Regions from separate parts of the Homo sapiens genome. Here region 2 is linked to region 1. The links come from fine-mapping of genetic effects on gene expression. A gene starts in region 1. The other region holds a variant in brackets. All regions are shown on one strand. Distances are from middle to middle.

What was found. PIP is the estimated chance that this variant, and not a neighbour inherited with it, causes the effect. A credible set is the group of variants that fine-mapping cannot tell apart.
Region 2: its variant is the best candidate, but not a certain one, in a credible set for the expression of B3GNT5 in whole blood (TOPMed, PIP 0.89).

Annotation. Positions count from the first base shown.
Region 1 is chr3:183,248,394-183,258,021 of GRCh38, forward strand. B3GNT5 (UDP-GlcNAc:betaGal beta-1,3-N-acetylglucosaminyltransferase 5) reads left to right here and starts at 4,860. Exons shown (of 2, transcript NM_032047.5): 1 at 4,860-5,079. The region is part of intron 15 of MCF2L2 (MCF.2 cell line derived transforming sequence-like 2); the gene reads right to left. LOC124906310 (a long non-coding RNA gene) reads left to right here and starts at 824. Exons shown (of 3, transcript XR_007096189.1): 1 at 824-1,177; 2 at 2,391-2,472; 3 at 4,142-4,162.
Region 2 is chr3:183,199,214-183,208,841 of GRCh38, forward strand. MCF2L2 (MCF.2 cell line derived transforming sequence-like 2) reads right to left here. Exons shown (of 30, transcript NM_015078.4): 23 at 8,395-8,610; 24 at 6,909-7,001; 25 at 6,663-6,741. Among named protein-coding and RNA genes, the nearest start is that of LAMP3, 41 kb to the left of the region's middle. The variant C/A (reference allele first, on the strand shown) is at 5,536.

The sequences.
Region 1 (9,628 bases):
TGTATTAAAGAGTACTCAATGTAAACCCTAGGAAGACTTTTAACTGCCTTTTGGAAATTGGTTGAGTGGGATTTGAACCGTGTACTCTCTGTAAAGCAGGAAATTATCACTTAGTAATTACTAAGTATTTAAAAATGGGAAATAGAAAATTACATTTCAGACCTGGTGCAGTGGCTCATACCTGTAATCCTAACACTTTGGCAGGTGGAGGCAGGTGGATCGCTTGAGCCCAGGAGTTCAAGACCAGCCTGGGCAACATAGTGAGCAACTCCATTTCTACTAAAAATAAAAAAAATTATTTGGGCGTGATGGGGTGCACCTGTAGTCCCCACTACTCAGGAGGCTGAGACAGGAAGATTGCTTGAGCCTAGAAGGTCAAGCCTGAGTGAGCAGTGACCGGCCATTGTATTCCAGCCTGAGCAACACAGCGAGACCCTGTCTCAAAAAAAATGTATATTTTTAAAAAAAGAAAATTACATTTTAGTTGTTCCATAAATATCAGTACAACCAAACCTAAGTGCAAAATTCCCAACACAAATGATCGCCTCTGGGCCAGCCATGTAGCCCCCATCTTGCTGTCAATAATCATTTCCAGGGGCTGTAATTGTCTTCCTTCCCCCTGTACCACCCCATCACAGGACACAAATTGTTTTGCTTAGTTTAGATAGCTGTGACTAAACTAAGTGCCAATTGTCTTTTAAAATATGTGTTAATCAGCACTCAAGATTGTTCCTACAAAAATGTCACTCCCTCACTCAATTTGCATGTGCCCTCCTGAGTAGGAGAGAAAGAGCTGAGTTAGAGGCAGCCCTCTGGGACCTGCACAGAACCCTGTATGCTTCCGGGAGTGTGGAGTGTGTGTCTGATCTGCTGCTGGGAAAAGGAGAAGAAATGCTGAGACACTCACTGCCAGGGGCTGGTATCAGGCCATTTTCACAGGGGCTGTTGGAGGGTTGACAGCACAGCTCTACTGGACCAGGGAGGGTCCCAGCCAGCAGGGCCTGCCCCTCCGAAACTGTCCCTGTCCCTGTCCCTGAGAGGCCCCACTGAGTGTCAGATGGCACATAAGAGATTTCCTTATGCGTTGGTGTGAAGGAGATGATCAGTTCCAGGAGGCCCCTCCCCCATGCAGAAGAGAAGAAAATGGAAGAAACCGGGTTCTCAGAGTGGCCTGCGGGTGAGTGCCGCCTTGTGCTGTCAGTTCCCTTCACCTTCCAGTTCTGGGTGTACCTAGTGTGGTTTCATCAAACTGCTGAGGCCCTGGAATTGAGGGAGGATGCTGAAGGGTGCCAGGCCATAGAAGCAGTAGCAGGAGCTGCAGCAAAGAGCTAGTGTGTCTCCAGCGTCAGCTTTTGGGCCTTGGTGGCATCAAAGGAGACGTACACAGGGCCACTGTACTACGGATGGGATTCTTGGAACAAAAGTTTGAATAATTGATGAGTGTGGAAGTGCTATGCAAAAATTCAATTCAACCTGCAGTTACCAGGCATTCATTCTGTGACAGGCATTATTGTGAGGGTGGCAAGGAGACGGGGAGTCTCTGAGAGACTCAGAGAAGAGCAGGGCATGGTGTCCACCCACAAGAGATCTGAAGACTTTCAAAGTAGTTGGGAAAACAGACATACAACTTTTTTCCCCTCCCCACAGCTAGTTGAGGCAAAAGACATATAACTTATACAGTGACAAAATACTACTGACTGTTACTGACACATAACAGCCTGGGCTGGGTCACTGGTGAGAAAAAGGAGGATTCTTGCTTTTGGGGCATTCAAGTCCTGTCCATTAACCATTTCCCAATCCCATATTTATACATCCCATTTTAGACATATTAAGCTGAAGATTGATGTGACATACCCAAAGACACTTAAGGTTGAAGCTGAGAATCTGGGCTAGAAATATAAATCAGGATGGGCTGGGAGCGGTGGTTCACGCCTGTAGTCCCAGCACTTTGGGAGGCCGAGGCGGGCGGATCACTTGAAGTCAGGAGTTCAAGACCTGCCTGGCCAACATGGTGAAACCCCATCTCCACCAAAAATATAAAAAATTAGCCAGGTGTGGTGGTGCATGACTGTAATCCCAGCTACTCGGGAGGCTGAGGCAGGAGAGTCACTTGAACCCGGGAGGCAGAGGTTACAGTGAAAGGAGATCGTGCCACTGCACTCCAGCCTGGGTGACAGAGCGATACTTCGTTTCAAAAAAAGAAAAAAAAAAAAAAGAAAGAAATGTAAGTCAAGATTAAAGACAATGGGTGAGATCAGCAAGGAGCATGTGTGCGGAGAAGAGAACACCAAGGAAGGCTGCGTGTGGTGGGAGGTGGCCGGGGGGCAGAGAAAGAGGCGGCGGAGCCAAGGAGATAGGGCATCGTCTGAATGGTGATGCTGTATCAACAGATGTGAAATTCCCAGAGGTGTGAAACACAGCAGATCCTTTACAGCACGATGACAGGACACAGCATGAGCCTACCTCTGCCAGGTGAGAGGAGCTTTCTGCAACCTGTGATGGGCTCAAGGATGCTGACCATTCATCCGCCCATTGGGATAGCCCAGGCTCTGAGCTCAGCACTCCACCCGTCACTGCGATTGCACTAATCCTCACCCACCCTTGCAGGCAGGTATTACTGTGGGCACAGAGAAGTTTGCTAACTTGCCAGAGATCCTGTGTAGGAAGCCAGGTCAGGAAACAACCAGAGTCTCTCTAACAGCCCAGGCCTTGAATGAACACCGGCCTGCTTCAGAATACATGGCCCGTGATGTGTTTGAATTCACAGATTCACTGGACAGGTTCCCTATAGGGCCTGTGAGGAAATCTGGTCTAACAGAATCCAGAAAGACAAATTTCGCTAAACAGGTCAAGCCTGATACTGCTGCTACACTTCAGCTGTGTTAAGCCACTCGGTTATCAGACCTGCTTCTCCTTTCATGATTTTAGTAACACAGGCCTCTTCCTTGGGCCCCTGTTGCTCCCACCATCTCCCAGGTTCTCTTGTACTCAGGGTTTAGTCTCCCCTCCCCACTACTAATGATGCATGTGCCTTACTCTCTGATCATCTCTCCTAAATCTGCTACTCCTCTGCTCTTTCTGTGCCTTATCTATCCCTGCCGAGTCTAACATGCAGATTTTGGTCATTCCAAAGTCATGTATAGATCTAATCACAGGGCTCTCTGCTTACCAGCTGCTACTTGGATAAGGAAAGCATGCCAACACGGTCCTCCTTCTTCATGCTGGCCAAGTCAGCATCATTATTATTACCTAAGTTTATTTCTAACACATCTCAATATCTTCATGCACTCCCTCTTGATAAAAGTAACTGAGCATAGCACCATCAATACCATCAAATCTGTCATTCTCTTCCCCTCTCTCTGGGTGGGACAGGAAGCCAGGCTGCTCTAGGAAATCTTCCCTAACAAGCAAAGGGGACTTGCCTGTCCTCTCGCATGTGTGATCTGAGCTTGTGTGGATCCCAGAGTGGGCATTCTGGACTACTTGACCTTGCCTATCTCTCCTTCACACCCTCTCATCTCTCCCTCCTACCACCAAAAAACTTGCATCGTATTTCCAATCTCCAGACATACTTTTGAAACCATTTATCTATCTGGTGTGTTTATCTGTATCTAGTATGATGTGAATATGTGATTTGTATGTGTGTCTACCACTGTTTTGGTCAGTTTGTATTTCTCGTGGGTACAGTTCTATGTGCTCATGTATGTGGAACATATGTATACTGACACATGGACCTAGCTCCAAATGATCTGAAAGGAATATAATTGTAATTGAATATTTGCACAGATATACAACATACACATGTGATGGCTGGGGGAAATGCATGTGGGATTTCAGTCAGCATTTTATTAGAGAAGGTATGTCATTAGTGCTGTATTAACAATGAATCAGCTTATTTGTGGGTCACTGTCAATGACTCCTTTGCAAATCACACATGTAAATATTTCTGTCTGTGGTCTGATGAACATGCAGTGCCACAGTCTGGGAGATGCTGAGCCATGCCCTGTGTAGGCAGCATATGAAAAGAACTGCATGATTTAAAAGATGCTGACCAGCTTAAGGAAAGCAATTTAAAAACTTCCTAAAAATCTAGTTTGAATGAACAACAGTTTTCATTTTGTGTGTGTGTTTTTTCTTTTAGAGATGGGGTCTTGCTATGTTGGCCACGCTGGTCTCTAACTCCTGGGATCAAGCAATCCTCCTGCGGCTCAGCCTCCCAAAGTGATGGGATTACAGGTGTGAGCCACCGTGTCTGCTGGCCCCACTGTTTTAAACCCTGATTCGACAATCATACATTTAACTCATTACCTGTCTTGTTCCTTTTACGACAAACTCAAAGCTTTTATTTTACTAAAGTATTTGGGTTAATCTTTTGCTTTTCTGTCATGTTCTGAAATATGTACAATAACAGAATCGCTCAAAATATTATCTCCGTTAAATGTTTTGTGGCTTTAGGGAGAGGTCTAACAACATGCGGGAAACAAGAAATCAAGCGCATCCAGGATTCATTTATAATCTCTCTCGTTGAGTAGAAGTCCGCATCTCTCGATATTGTCTGGTTACCTGCATGAAGTATTCTAAAGGAGGAAAATAGCTCAAAGAGGACATTCATGTGCACTCTGGCTTCCAGTTGGCCATTTGAGTAAGTGATCGCAATTAACTGACGAGCGGCAGGGAAACACTTCCTGGAATTCTCATCTACAGACAAGAACAAACTGGGGCGGGGCCCATCACCTTCACCTACGCGCCGGGAGGGTGGCGGCTGGCGGGCGGGGCCGGGCTCGGGCCGTGACGCCGAGAGTGCGGGGCGCGCGGCTGGGAGCCTCGCGCCCCCGCCCGGGCCCGCCCCCATCCCGCCCGCATACAGCCCGCATCCCGCCGGGGAAGCGAGCCCAGTCCAGCGCTGCCCGTCCAGTCCTCGCCCAAGATTTAAAGCCCGCAAGTTTTGTTCTTGAGACCAGCGACTTTAGCTCCGATGCGGGAAGGAAAGCCGACCTCCGATTTGGACATTTAAAGAGCTGGGCTTGAACTTCGTGAGTTTCGCTCTAAACTGCCCTTGAAATGAAGCTGGACTTGGAGGTAAAGTCACTGGGAAGCTGGCCTGGGGCGGGGTTTCCCCCTCTTCTCGTATTTTAGAAACGGACAGCGGCAGTGCAGCCCTAGTTTGCTGTAAGTTTCCTTACTTTGTTACTGAGGCCCCCAGAGCTCCACGCATAAGTGGTGTGACCAGAAACCTTTTAACAAGACCCGCCTGAGCCTGCGTTAGAGCTCCCGCTCGGAAAGTAAAAGACCATCCTAATCCGCGGCGCTGCGGAACCGGTGTCCCGTGTGGGAGGAACCGCGGCGTTCCCTGGGCGTAGGGCCCGCGAGGCCAGCACAGTCCGCCTCTTGGCGGAGCGCCCTGGGCCGGTGGTTCCGCGCGGAGTTAGTCTGTGGTCAGTTACGTGGTGAAAACACGGCTGTGCCGCGGCCGCATCTTTCCGCGGCCGAGGCCTCTCTGGGTGGGAGTGTTGGCTTCCTTTCCGGATCGCTAAATGGGGAAAGTTCTGGCCGCTCGGCGGGATACGTCTCCAGGCCACGGATGGTTCGTTCTCCGTGCCGCGGCCCCGAGCTGGGCTCCCTGGGTCTCCAGCGCGGGCTCCCGGCATTGGGGGCTGCGGGCCGGCCCCTCCGCCCCGCCCCCGCCCCGCCGCGCCTCCTCGGCCGAGCGGCTCGCGGTCTCCGGCGCGGGAGGCTCCGAGTCTGCCCACTCCGGGCCGAGCGAGGTCTCTGGAGGAGAAGAGTGGCGAGGAGGTGAGGGCACGCCGGCCCTCGCCCGGCGGGTGGCGCCAGGACTTCAGGTGGGAACGCGCGCTTGGGCCGGGGGCGCGTGGCTGGCGTGGACACCGGATCGGGGCCCGCCGCCCTGGCCCGGACCGCGCACGGCCCAGCGCCGGGAAGTCGGGAAGCCGGGGAGGCCTCTCCCACCGCGGGCCCCGGCAGCCCGCCCTCTGAAAGCGCGGCGGAGAAGGAGGCTCGTCCCCTCCCCGGAACGCCTTTGTTCCCTCCGGCCTGCCCGCGCGGGTGGCCAGCGGCTGGGACCCAGGCCGGGCCGCCGCCCAGGTGCGGCAGGTAGGCTCGGGGGCCGGGCAGCTCCGGTTGGGGCGGCTTCCCGGGGCCTGCGGGTCCCCGTCCCTGAGGAGCTCCGGCTCCTCGGTGGCGGGACAGGCCCGTGCGCGGGAGCCGCGAGGCGAACGCCGCGCCCACCAATTCGGTTGCCGGCCGGGGGCCCCAGGCTTGCGGCCACCCGCCTCCGGCTGGAGGGCTGAATTCGAGTCGAAAGCCCGTGTCGGGCTGGAAAGAAGAAACCGCCAACCTGAGAACGCTTTCGGCGAGTTACTGGCGGGGGAAATGGGGACAGGGAAGTGGGCAGGCGGGGAGACTGCAGCCGCAGATCTCCCTGGCGGGGAGGTCGTGGCCACTCTTTCCTTTGACTCTGCCTCATTTCATTTTGAATCCTGATGTGACAGAGGCAATTGCTTGCTTGGATACCATATAGGTAAAAGTAACAGTTTTCAACTCGACTCTTGACTACACCCTGTACATTCTTGGCCGGTGTTGGTTTTCTTAGGTTATGGATCATGTTAAAGGTACACCGATGTGGTAACCGCACAGTGGCCGATGGTGGCCTGAGGCTCATATTTATGGTAATTATCTGATGAAAGTACATCCATCAGAATTGGATTTGTGCGTCTGTGCCTTTATTTTGGGAAACCTTGCCTGTTCCCTGTGGGGGATGGGAGAGGAATGTGAAAAGCCGAAGTTGACCCAGAAAAGGATGATTGAAGGTAGTTGTATTAAGTGGTGGCACCGAAATGATTCCACCCTGAACTTTCTGAAAGGGTGATTAGTGATCAGCAGCAGACGTTATAACTTTCTCAAAATAAATTTATGGTAGATTTTCTATCTGGTCACAAGTGAGGAGGTGAAAGCTGCTTTTTGGGGCCAACTCTTTGCTTTTAAAGCAAGCTAAACGCAATACCAGAAAGGTTTCCATTCTGTACTTAACCTGCTTGTCCTTCTCACTCTTCCTTATCCTCCCGCACACGCTCTGAGCATTGACTGAGCACTCTGAGGAGGAGGCTGACTCAGGCTGACCCTTCCCGGCCCTGCAAGGCTCTAAGGTAGAACCAGTGTTATCACAGGAAAGGCCCAAGCCAAAGCTCAGAGCAGCTGTTCCTGAGAAAGTGGGAGATGAGGATGAGTAGGAGGTAGAGATGCTTATAACTGCTCTGCCCAGAGAAAACTCAGAAGGTGCAGAAGAGTTTTCAAAATAAAGTGCAGGCCCCATCAAGTAAAAAATGAAACATTGTATTTCATTAAAATGGTGATCAGTTTTCTCTTTTCATAAAAGACATTCAAATGGTGAGATTGTAAAAAAAAAAAAAAAGAAAAAGAAAACTTTCTAATTCTCAAAAATAGAACAGCTTGAATAATAACTCATGGGTTTTGAAATGGGTCATCTTTTAAAATGGGTCACTTTGGCTAGAATCATTGCACTTGGTGACTTTCACATTGTAAAGGGTCCAGTTCTTTCTGAGGCCCAATTGCACTAGAATCTGCATTTCAGAACACAGGAGGTATCAGGAAGAAACTGGGAGAAATTCAGAGGGAAATTGTCTCTTCTCAGAGTAACAAAATGTCCCCTATTCAGGGGGAATTTTATATATGCTGAAGTAAATAGATCTCAGCTTTGAATTTTTATAATACATTATGCCTTTTCTGAAATATTTCCATAGCCATTATTTTAATGCATTGTTAGAATAACCTTGTAAGGAGAGGAATTCATTGTATCTGTGTTCCAGAAACTGAGGCACAGTAAATTACAAGAGCTCTGCCCTTTGATATCGAATCTCTGTGAGCGAAGATGTAACCAGAACAGTGTAAATCTAGAATTACTTTCCTTACGGTATGCAATATCTAATTATTATGTATTAGTTTACATATATATAGGGGATGTAAGAATCTTTATATTTAAAGGATAAGAAACTTGATCAGGTGAGATACAAGATTTGAATAAAAAAGCGATTTTTTAGAAACATTTTAATTCTACAAATTCAGTTGCTGGCTTTGATATGTAACTTATTCAGATTTCTCTTCCATAGAAGGCTTTAACACTAGAAGCCAGTTCTCTACAAAAGAGAATGTTCTACCAAGTGTGTAGGCAACAAAGCCCAAAAGTTCAAGTTCAAAATACTGTTCTACAGCCTAAGATCCACCTAATATTTCAGATTTGACTCTTTTGCTCCTTTCCTATAACTTCCTATAACTTTTTCATAGTGCTCTAAGCAAAGTAAGTTCAAGGATGGACTCACCTCAAGTTTCCTTCTCTTACTTTAGAGGACCATATAATCTTATACCTGTGTCATCCTAATTGAAATGTATTTTAAGTGCTTGTGGGAACAAGAATAACGGAAGACCGTTATTCCATTAATGGAATAATGGGGAACATGAGAAGGACCATATTCAGTCAATTAGGGATGATACTTCTGCCTCAACAGTATTTGCGATGTGTTAAATGGCCCTTAGCCATCAGATCAGTATTTTTAAAAACTCCTACCTAATTAATGTTTTTTGAGAAGAAGCATATTATGAGTATAGCTCAGTATTCTAAAAAGAAAAAAACCTGAAAAAAAAATCAGCCATCCATTAACTAACCCATCCTGGTAAAGCTACACAAACAGATTCTAGAGAAAGGAAATTTGCACAGATGGAACATCTAATCTGGACTGACATTGTCAACAAGTTATCTCAAATGATCCTGAGAAAACACTGGTACATGGTTTAGAGACAAGTCGAGCTCATGTGACTAGTAAATGGAGAGGCACAGTATACATCTACTTTTGTTGGCATTTAAACACTCTCGGCTTTTTTACTCTCTTTCACCACCATCAGGTCCAGATTCCAGCTTGCACTGGAATATTTATTGACCCTTTGATAGAAGAGCTACACCTGAAACATCTCTGAAGTCTTTTTAGCATCCTATCCTGCCCATGGCCTACTACACAGTATGTGATAAGTTAATGTTTGTTGAATTAGTTAAATATACGTATTAACCTACTTTCAGGGCTGCCCGCTGTAATGCCTAGAATAGGGCAGGCACTTAATAAATGGTAGTTAACTTAGACTAAATGTTGATCCACCAAGACAGAAACATGTTACATATACCTCTTGTTTTACACCATCTTCTACTTTTTGTACCTCTGTGTTATAAACCCTCTATCAAGTGTTGCTTCTAAAGACAATGTCCAGAATGGGACGTAGGAACTGCCACTGGGCAACAGGCAGACACTGGGTTATATCGTCATCCTGTTTCTGAATCCTGGTTTTTCTTATTATTATTCAACCACAGCTAAACTTTCTGATCTCCTTTTTTCCGTTTTTTCCCTTTACCCTAACTTCTAGCCAAACTAAGTGATTTGACATTTCCCCACTCAAGCCACAACTTTTTCTCTTATGTGCTTAAAAAAAATTCCTGCGTAGTCTCTCTTGGAATGTCTTATTCCTTGCTCCCTCCACTTCACCCTTTTTTTTTTTTTTTTTTTTTTTTTTTGAGACGGAGTCTCGCTCTGTTGCCCAGGCTGGAGTG
Region 2 (9,628 bases), 49 kb before region 1:
GAGCCAGTTGCATTCCTGCTATCTCTAAAGAAAAAAGTTATCTTTTCATTTTTATGTGATTTTTCTTACCCAAAATGCAAACCACTGCCAGTATAAATGATGGAAGATAGACTTTCCACATGAAACTGGCATTTCTTCACCCTAGTAACATTACCTGAGGGGAAGGTCAGAACTCAATTGATAAAGCTCGCTGTGGATTTTCCCACCAAATATCCCTGCAAACAAAGTGAAAGGATAAAGCCTGCTTAAAGATGATTTGTAATTGTTGAAAGGAGTACAGTGTGTGACATCAGTGAAAATGGTGGAGAAAAAACCCGTCCCCAAATTCTCTTCTTTGTGAAAGCATGGAAAAAACTGGCCAAAAATGGTTAGAAAATTTATTTTCAGAATATCGAAATTTTTTTTTCCTTTTTTTTTTTTTTATTATACTTTAAGTTCTAGGGTACGTGTGCACAACATGCAGGTTTGTTACATATGTATACATGTGCCATGTTGGTGTGCTGCACCCATTAACTCATCATTTGCATTATGTATATCCCCTAATGCTATCTATCCCTTCCCCCTCCCCCCACCCCACCACAGGCCCTGGTGTGTGATGTTCCCTACCCTGTGACCAAGTGTTCTCATTGTTCAGTTCCCACCTATGAGTGAGAACACACGGTGTTTGGTTTTCTGTCCTTGCGATAGTTTGCTCAGAATGATGGTTTCCAGCTTCACCATGTCCCTACAAAGGACATGAACTCATTGTTTTTTATGGCTGCATAGTATTCCATGGTGTATATGTGCCACATTTTCTTAATCCAGTCTATCATTGATGGACATTTGGGTTGGTTCCAAGTCTTTGCTATTGTGAATAGTGCTGCAATAAACATACGTGTGCATGTATCTTTATAGCAGCATGATTTATAATCCTTTGGGTATATACCCAGTAATGGGATGGCTGGGTCAAACGATATTTGTAGTTCTAGATCTTTGAGGAATCGCCACACTGTCTTCCACAATGGTTGAACTAATTTACAGTCCCACCAACAGTGTAAAAGTGTTCCTATTTCTCCACATCCTCTCCAGCACCTGTTGTTTCCTGACTTTTTAAAGATTGCCTTTCTAACTGGTGTGAGATGTTATCTCATTGTGGTTTTGATTTGCATTTCTCTGATGGCCAGTGATGATGAGCATTTTTTCATGTGTCTGTTGGCTGCATAAATGTCTTCTTTTGAGAAGTGACCGTTCATATCTTTTGCCCACTTTTTGATGGGGTTGATTTTTTTCTTGTAAATTTGTTTAAGTTCTTTGTAGATTCTGGATATTAGCCCTTTGTCAGATGGGTAGATTGTAAACATTTTCTCCCATTCTGTAAGTTGCCTGTTCACTCTGATGGTAGTTTCTTTTGCTGCGCAGAAACTCTTTAGTTTAATTAGATCCCACTTGTCAATTTTGGCTTTTGTTGCCATTGCTTTTGGTGTTTTAGTCATGAAGTCCTTGCCCATGCCTATGGCCTGAATGGTATTGCCTAGGTTTTCTTCTAGGGTTTTTATGGTTTTAGGTCTAACATTTAAGTCTTTAATCCATCTTGAATTCATTTTTGTATAAGGTGTAAGGAAGGGATCCAGTTTCAGCTTTCTACATATGGCTAGCCAGTTTTCCCAGCACTATTTATTAAATAGGGAATCCTTTCCCTATTTCTTGTTTTTGTCAGGTTTGTCAAAGATCAGATGGTTGTAGATGTATGATATTATTTCTGAGGGCTCTGTTCTGTTCCATTGGTCTATATCTCTGTTTTTGGTACCAGTACCATGCTGTTTTGATTACTGTAGCCTTGTAGTATAGTTTGAAGTCAGGTAGCGTGATGCCTCCAGCTTTGTTCTTTTGGCTTAGGATTATCTTGACAATGCAAGCTCTTTTTTGGTTCCATATGAACTTTAAAGTAGTTTTTTTCCAATTCTGTGAAGAAAGTCATTGGTAGCTTGATGGGGATGGCATTGAATCTATAAATTACCTTGGGCAGTATGGCCATTTTCACGATATTGATTCTTCCTATCCATGAGCATGGAATGTTCTTCCATTGGTTTGTGTCCTCTTTTATTTTGTTGAGCAGTGGTTTGTAGTTCTCCTTGAAGAGGTCCTTCACATCCCTTGTAAGTTGGATTCCTAGGTATTTTATTCTCTTTGAAGCAATTGTGAATGGGAGTTCACTCATGATTTGGCTCTCTGTTTGTCTGTTATTGGTGTATAGGAATGCTTGTAATTTTTGCACATTGATTTTGTATACTGAGACTTTGCTGAAGTTGCTTATCAGCTTAAGGAGATTTTGGGCTGAGACGATGGGGTTTTCTAAATATACAATCATGTCATCTGCAATTTGACAATTTGACTTTCTCTTTTCCTAATTCAATACCCTTTATTTCTTTCTCCTGCCTGATTGCCCTGGCCAGAACTTCCAACACTATGTTGAGTAGGAGTGGTGAGAGAGGGCATCCCTGTCTTCTGCCAGGTTTCAAAGGGAATACTTCCAGTTTTTGCCCATTCAGTATGATATTGGCTGTGGGTTTGTCATAAATAGTTCTCATTATTTTGAGATACGTCCCATCAATACCTAGTTTATTGAGAGTTTTTAGCATGAAGGGCTGTTGAATTTTGTTGAAGACCTTTACTGCATCTATTGAGATAATCATGTGGTTTTTGTCTTCGGAGAACACTGGAAATTAAATGATGGCTTGCAGCAATCTGGAGAGCATTTATTCAAGGAAAATGGCTGTGTCTCAGTATGACTAATGAGCTTTTTAACTTGCCCTATTTCTATCCTCCCCTTCCTTGGTGGTAGCCTTAGAAATGAACAGCCTGCAATGATAGTGAAAATCAGCAGTCTGGCAGCCATGGGAGGGGCAGAACAGGAATGGGGGAACTATGGAGCCTCATTCTTAGAGAATTATCATTATTTGATCTGTCCACGGGTTTCTAGGAATACCTGACCTGCAAGTCTGTCTTTATTAGGCCTGACTCAGAACTTGCCCAATGTGAAAAGTCTTTTCCCCAAAGGCCTTTGTAGAAAATGATTACAGGCAATTGTTTAACTTCTTGGTTGCTCGAGGTATTGGCTAACAGTGGGGCAAACATGGGCTAATCAGAAGGTTTAAAATGAAATGCTCAGGAATAAGATGCTCATAGAGGGTTGTAAAGGCTCCAAAATATTTATGAGACTCTAGAAGACCATGCACACATTTCCTGTGAACATGTTCAGGACAGATCTGCGAAGGCCCCACGATCTTACCTCTGGCTGATCTTGATGATCTGCACAAACAGAAAGTGAAAGCTAGGCTAGAACTGTCAAGTGCCAGGCTGAGTGTGAAGGTGTGCCCTAATGTGCACACAGAGCCCCTTGGCAAAGACTAGAAGACTTACTGCTTTCAGGTGTTTAAAGAAATCTCTGTCATGTCATTAGTATTTAGATCACTAAGCTAACTGAACAGAGGCTTCAATGGCTGCACATAAATACAGACTTCACAGAATTAGTTTAGAAAAGTCACTATAACAAACAACAATAAACAGCAACACCAACAAACAGTAGAGGTGGGAAGGTCCAATTTCCAGAGTTGCTACATTATGTTATTTAAAATGTGCAATTTTAACAGAAAATAATGAGACATGTAAAGAAATAAGAAAATGCAGTCCATACCCAGGGAAAAAGAAAAACCAGTCAATACAAACTGTTCCTAGGCCAGGTGCAGTGGCTCATGCCTGTAATCCCAGCACTTTGGGAGGCCAAGGCAGGCAGATCACCAGAGGTCAGGAGTTTGAGACCAGCCTGACCAACATGTTGAAACCCCATCTCTACTAAAAGAAAAATACAAATTTAGCCAGGCATGGTGGCGTGCACCTGTAATCCCAGCTACTCGGGAGGCTGAGGCAGAAGAATTGCTTGAACCCAGGAGGCGGAGGTTGCAGTGAGCTGAGATCATGCCATTGCACTCCAGCCTGGGCTACAGAGCAAGACTCTGTCTCAAAAAAGAAAAAAAAAGAAAAAAGAAAAAACTGTTCCTGAGGAAGCCAAGATACTGACTTTACTAGACCAATACTTTAACTATTTTTACATGTTCAAAAAGTTAAAGGAAATCATATATAAAGACTAAAGGAAAGCACAAGAACAAATCCTCATTAAATAGAAAATATAAAGATTTGTTTTAAAGGACGAAACAGAAATTCTAGATTTCAAAAGTATAATAATTGAATGAGAAATTCACTAGAGTGGCTGGCTCAATAGCAGATCTGAGCAGGCAGAAGAAAGAATTAGAGAACTCAGAAATAGGTCAATTGAATCTATCCAGTCTGAGGAAGAGAAAGAAAGAGGAATGAAGGAAAAATGAATAGAGCCTCAGAGACTGTGAGATACCTTCAAGCACGCTAATGACGCATAATGGCAGTCTCAGAAGGAGAGAGGGATAAATGGGCTAAAATAATATTTAAAGAAGCAATGGCTGAACATTTCCCAAATCTGATGAAAACATTAATCTATACCTTCAAGAAAGTCTATAAACTCCAAGAAATATAAATTCAAAGAGATCAAGATCCACACCTAGAGATAACATAATCAAACTGTCAACAAAGACAATGAAATTATCTTGAAAGCAGCAAGCACATAGAAGGACTCTTCAATAAGATTAACAGCTGATTTCTATCAGAAATCACAGAGTTGAGAAGGCAATGGGATGACATATTCAAAGTGCTTAAAGAAAAAGAGGGTCAACAAGGAATTCTATACCTAAAGCCAATTTATCTTCAACAAAGATGCCAAGACCATTCAAAGTGGGGAAAGAATAGTCTTTTCAATCAATGGTTCTAGGACAATGGATATCCACATGTAAAAAAAGGAACTTGGGCCCCTAATTCACATCATATACAAAAATTAACTCGGAATGAGTCAAAGGCTTAACTGTAAGAGTTAAAACTATAAACTCTTTGCAAAGAACACTATCAAGAGAGTAAAAAGACAATGCACAGTATGGGAAAAAATACTTGCAAATAATATATCTGATAAAAGTCCAGTATCCAGAATATATAAATAACTCTTACAATTCAACCATAAAATGACAAGCCAATTAAAAAACATACAAATGAGTTAACTGACATTTCTACAAAGAAGATATACCAATGGCCAATATGCATGTTAAAAGATGCTCAACATCACTAGCCATGAGGGAAATGTAAATCAAAATCACAATGAGATACTAGTACATGCCCACTAGGATGGCAATGATAATAATAATAATAATAATAATGTTATTATAATGAACAATACAAGTGTTAGTAAGGAAATGGAGAAAATTGAACCCAACTATTATATTGCTGGTGTGAATGTGAAATGGTGGTACTGTTTTGAAAGATGATTTGGAAGTTCCTCAGAAAGTTAACAAAAGTTACCATATGGTCTGGCAATTCTACATATATACACCAAAGAAAACTGGAAATAAAGATTCATACAAAAATCTGTACAAAAATATCTACAGCAGCTTTACTTACAGTATCCAAAAAGGGGAAAAA[C/A]CCCAAATCTTCATCAACTAATGAATGGATAAACAAAGATGGTATATCCATACAATGGACTGTTACTCAGCCATAAAAAGGTATGAAGTACTGATAGATACTACAACATAAATGAAACTTAAAAAAATACGCAAAGTGAAAGAAGCTAGACAGAAAGGGCCATATATGTGATGTGTAGAGAAAACATCCAATAGAGACAGGAAATACATTAGTGATTGCCAGGGGCTGGGTAAAGGTGAGAGATGGAGAATGATTGCTAATTGGTACAGAATTTTTTTGTTGGGAGAGTTATGAAAATATTTTGGAAGTATAATTAGAATTAGGCTGTTAAATACTTTAAAACAAAAAACAGCTGGGCGCAGTGGCTCACACCTGTAATCCCAGCACTTTGGGAGGCCGAGGCAGGCAGATCATAAGGTCAGGAGATCAAGACCATCCTGCCCAACATGGTGACACCCTGTCTCTACTACAAACACACAAATTAGCCAGGCGTGTTGGCGCGCCTGTAGTCCCAGCTATTCGGGAGGCTGAGGCAGGAGAATCACTTGAACCTGGGAGGCAGAGGTTGCAGTGAGCCCAGATGGTGCCACTGCACTCCAGCCTGGGCGACAAGAGCAAAAACTCCATCTCAAAACAAAACAAAACAAAAAACAAAAGTAAGAAGTAAAAAAATAGAATTAGACTGGGGATGGTTATTGAGCCTTGTGAATAATCTAAAACCCACTGAATTGTATATTTTAGACAGTGAATTTGATGGCATGTTAATTATATCTTGATGTTTTAAAAAAAGTAGTACAGTGTCTGAAAGGTAGCATTGGCCATTTGAATCTCTGTTAACATTTTCTTGGGTGGCCATCAGATTTTTGATTAAAGGTGACCTTGGCAATTAAGTGGTGGGGGGAACACAACCAAAAGGGACAAACCAACACAACCACACACAATCACACAACCCCTCCACCTCCACCACAGTGGAAATCAAGCATAGGTGCTTCCAGGGACTGTGAAAATGTGGCCACAGTTGTTTTCCCAGCAAACCATTTTCTTTCACAATATCCCCAATTTGCACATCCCCCACTGAGCTGAAATCAGTATAACTCGACAGACGAAAGTCAGCAGGGGTAACCTACCTTTGATATTATTTTGTTGTTCCATCAATAATTTACTTATTTCTGAAAACCAACAGTCTCTGATTTCTTTTGAAGCTGCCTGCAATCACACATAAGAAAACACTATAAGACTACCATGAGTATTAATTGCAGAGTTTTTATTCTCCCAGTGACCGTTAGACTAATGAGATAGAAAACACTTGTCAAGTCATGGGAACACAATAAGGAAAGAGTAGAGGAGACCCATGGGGAAGGCATGAGCGTTACCTGCAGGATGTATTTCTCAAGTCCATTTCGACTGGCAATCTCAAACTTTCTATGGCTCCCCCTTCCAAGCTGGCGAATTGAAAGTGTCATCAGCTATTATAAAGAGGGAAGAGAAATGTTCTATACCATCGTTTTCTGATTTTAAAATAGTCCCTGTCAATCACTCTAATCCTTTCTATCCTTGACAGCTCTCTTCTTTCATCTTCCTTTCAAGTTTTTGCTTTCCTCTCTTAATGACTCCAAGACAGCATAAAACACAATCTGGTACAGTGTCTTCTGTCTCATCTGTTTCAGAAGGTAACACAGACTGTTAACTTTCTACTGTATCTTTATGCAGGAGGCGCTGCAGCCCTCAACCTTTCAGTGAAGAGATCATTTCTCCTTCAACGTGTATTTTACAACTTTCTACGTAATAGTAACTGAATAAGGATCTATTCAGAAACATAAATAACAAGGCCAGGTATGGTGGCTCATGCCTCTGTAATCAGTCCTGTAATTCCAGCACTTTGGGAGGCCTAGGTGGGCGGATCACCTGAGGTCAGGAGTTCGAGACCAGCCTGACCAACATGGTGAAACCCTGTCTCTACTAAAAATACAAAATTAGCTGGGCATGCTGGTGCGTGCCTGTAATCCCAGCTACCTGGGAGGCTGAGGCAGAATTGCTTGAACCCGGGAGGTGGAGGTTGCAGTTAGCCAAGATCATGCCATTGCACTCCAGCCTGGGCAACAAGAGCAAAACTCTGTCGAAAGAAAAGAAAGAAAGAAAGACAAGAAAGAAAGACAGAAAGAAAGAAAGGAAGGAAGGAAGGAAGGAAGGAAGGAAGGAAGGAAGGAAGGAAGGAAGGAAGGAAGGGAGGGAGGGAGGGAGGAAGGAAGGGAGGGAGGAAGGAAGGAAGGAAGGGGAGAAAGAAAACAAAGGCTACTATGAACAAATTAACAGCTTTAATCACAACAGCATAAATATATATGGGTGTGGCTCCTGTATGTGGGTGTGTGTGTTTCATAGCCTGAGAGCTAACTGGCTATGAAACAGTTTCTAAACAGGTGAGAAAACAATGCTTGGTGTGGGCCTGGGTGCCTTAGACCCCAAGGTCAGGACAATGCCTGCACTTAGACACAAAGATACACCGTTGAGAAGGACAAGTCTAAGATGAAATCCAGCCCATGTTCTCATCACTAAGTCTTTCAACTCTCTTTTACCTCTTTGCCTGGAAGAAAGAGGGTACTTTTACTAATTAGTTTGTCCAGACTGGCTGCCATATAGTCTTTTTTCTCTAGTACAAAGGCACTCCTATGCCAGCCCTGGCCCATAAGCTCTGACCCTGGAGTCAGACAGACCCGGCTATGGATTCTAGCCCTGTGGTGTGGTATTTGGCAAGTTAACTTCACCTCTCTACACTGCAGCTTCCTCATCTGTAAAATAAGGAAAACGATCTCTCTCTTTTCTGCATAGGGCGACTCCCAGATGCAATAGGACTCCCTTTACCTTCATGGTCTTCTTGAAGCTGTAATGAGGAGATAATCCCTGGTCCCCAGGCTCCATTCGTATCTTACAGAACACTATTCCCCTTTCAAATAGGTAGATTTGCCTCTGGCTGGGTTTAAATCGAATCAAATCCTTCATTTTATAACGATCCTTGTGAATTGTCCAGACGCTGAAAGGGCCGTGCAGCAACAGCTTGCCTAGTTTTCCAATATCGTCCTTTTGGAAACACACATACAGGAAAAGAAGCTGTAAAATTACTTGACAGAGAAAGAAGCCTTTGTGGCCTGTTTTCAAATTTTATAAAGCATGCTTCTTTGAGGTTTACAATTCTAAAAGTGCTATTCAGGCTGGTCTGTCACTAAATCAAAACGACAATTTTTTGAGCTTCACTGAGCGTGGTGCCATTTAGTTATATAAGGAAATCAATTCAGCTATGAAAGGTAATGCTATACATAAAGAATGTTAGAAATGCTTGAGCTAGAGATACGGGGACTGTGATATTTTTGACTCAATTTTAACTAGCAGAATTCAATTTCCTCTGTGCTATGTTTGATACATGACAGTCTCCTTCAAAGGGACAAGAAATTAACATTTCAATTATGTCCAGTAGAGATAGAATTTTGGCTGCATTGCGGACCCATGAGCATCTGTGTGTTCCATCTGCATCCTAACTTCTGCTTCAGGTATATGAGGACCTGAGAAAATGAAGCTTGTTCTGAAAAGAGAAAGTTTACTGTGATCTAATCTTCACAACATTGTAATGGAAATAGTAACTGCATTCAACTCTGAGTTTTTCAGAGTGAGTCAACAGTGCCAAGATAATACCAAATGACAGATTTTTAAGAAGTCTGTTTGACTCTAGGCATAAACTGTGATGCCCCTGTCTCCACCAGCAAGGCTGCCTTTGTCATATGTCTGGTTGAAAGTCCAAATGAGATGACCCTGCCTTCTCTGAGCTCTCTTCAAAAGACAGTGGACCAAGATGAGCTGGGAGCGAGGCATTTTATCTGGTATTTTTCAAAACTTCGATTGCTTAAAGCAGATAAGAATTCATTTCCCTGAATAAAAACACCAAAAGGAACAAATTATTTGAAGGGGACCAAGACAAAGAAATCTCCCTAAGTGACCTCTAGCTGAGATCAATCCCTATGATTTCTGAGTTAATACTGGAAATATGTACTTCATTCATAATTGATTGGGCATTTTTATAATTTATTGTTTATATGTTGGGCAA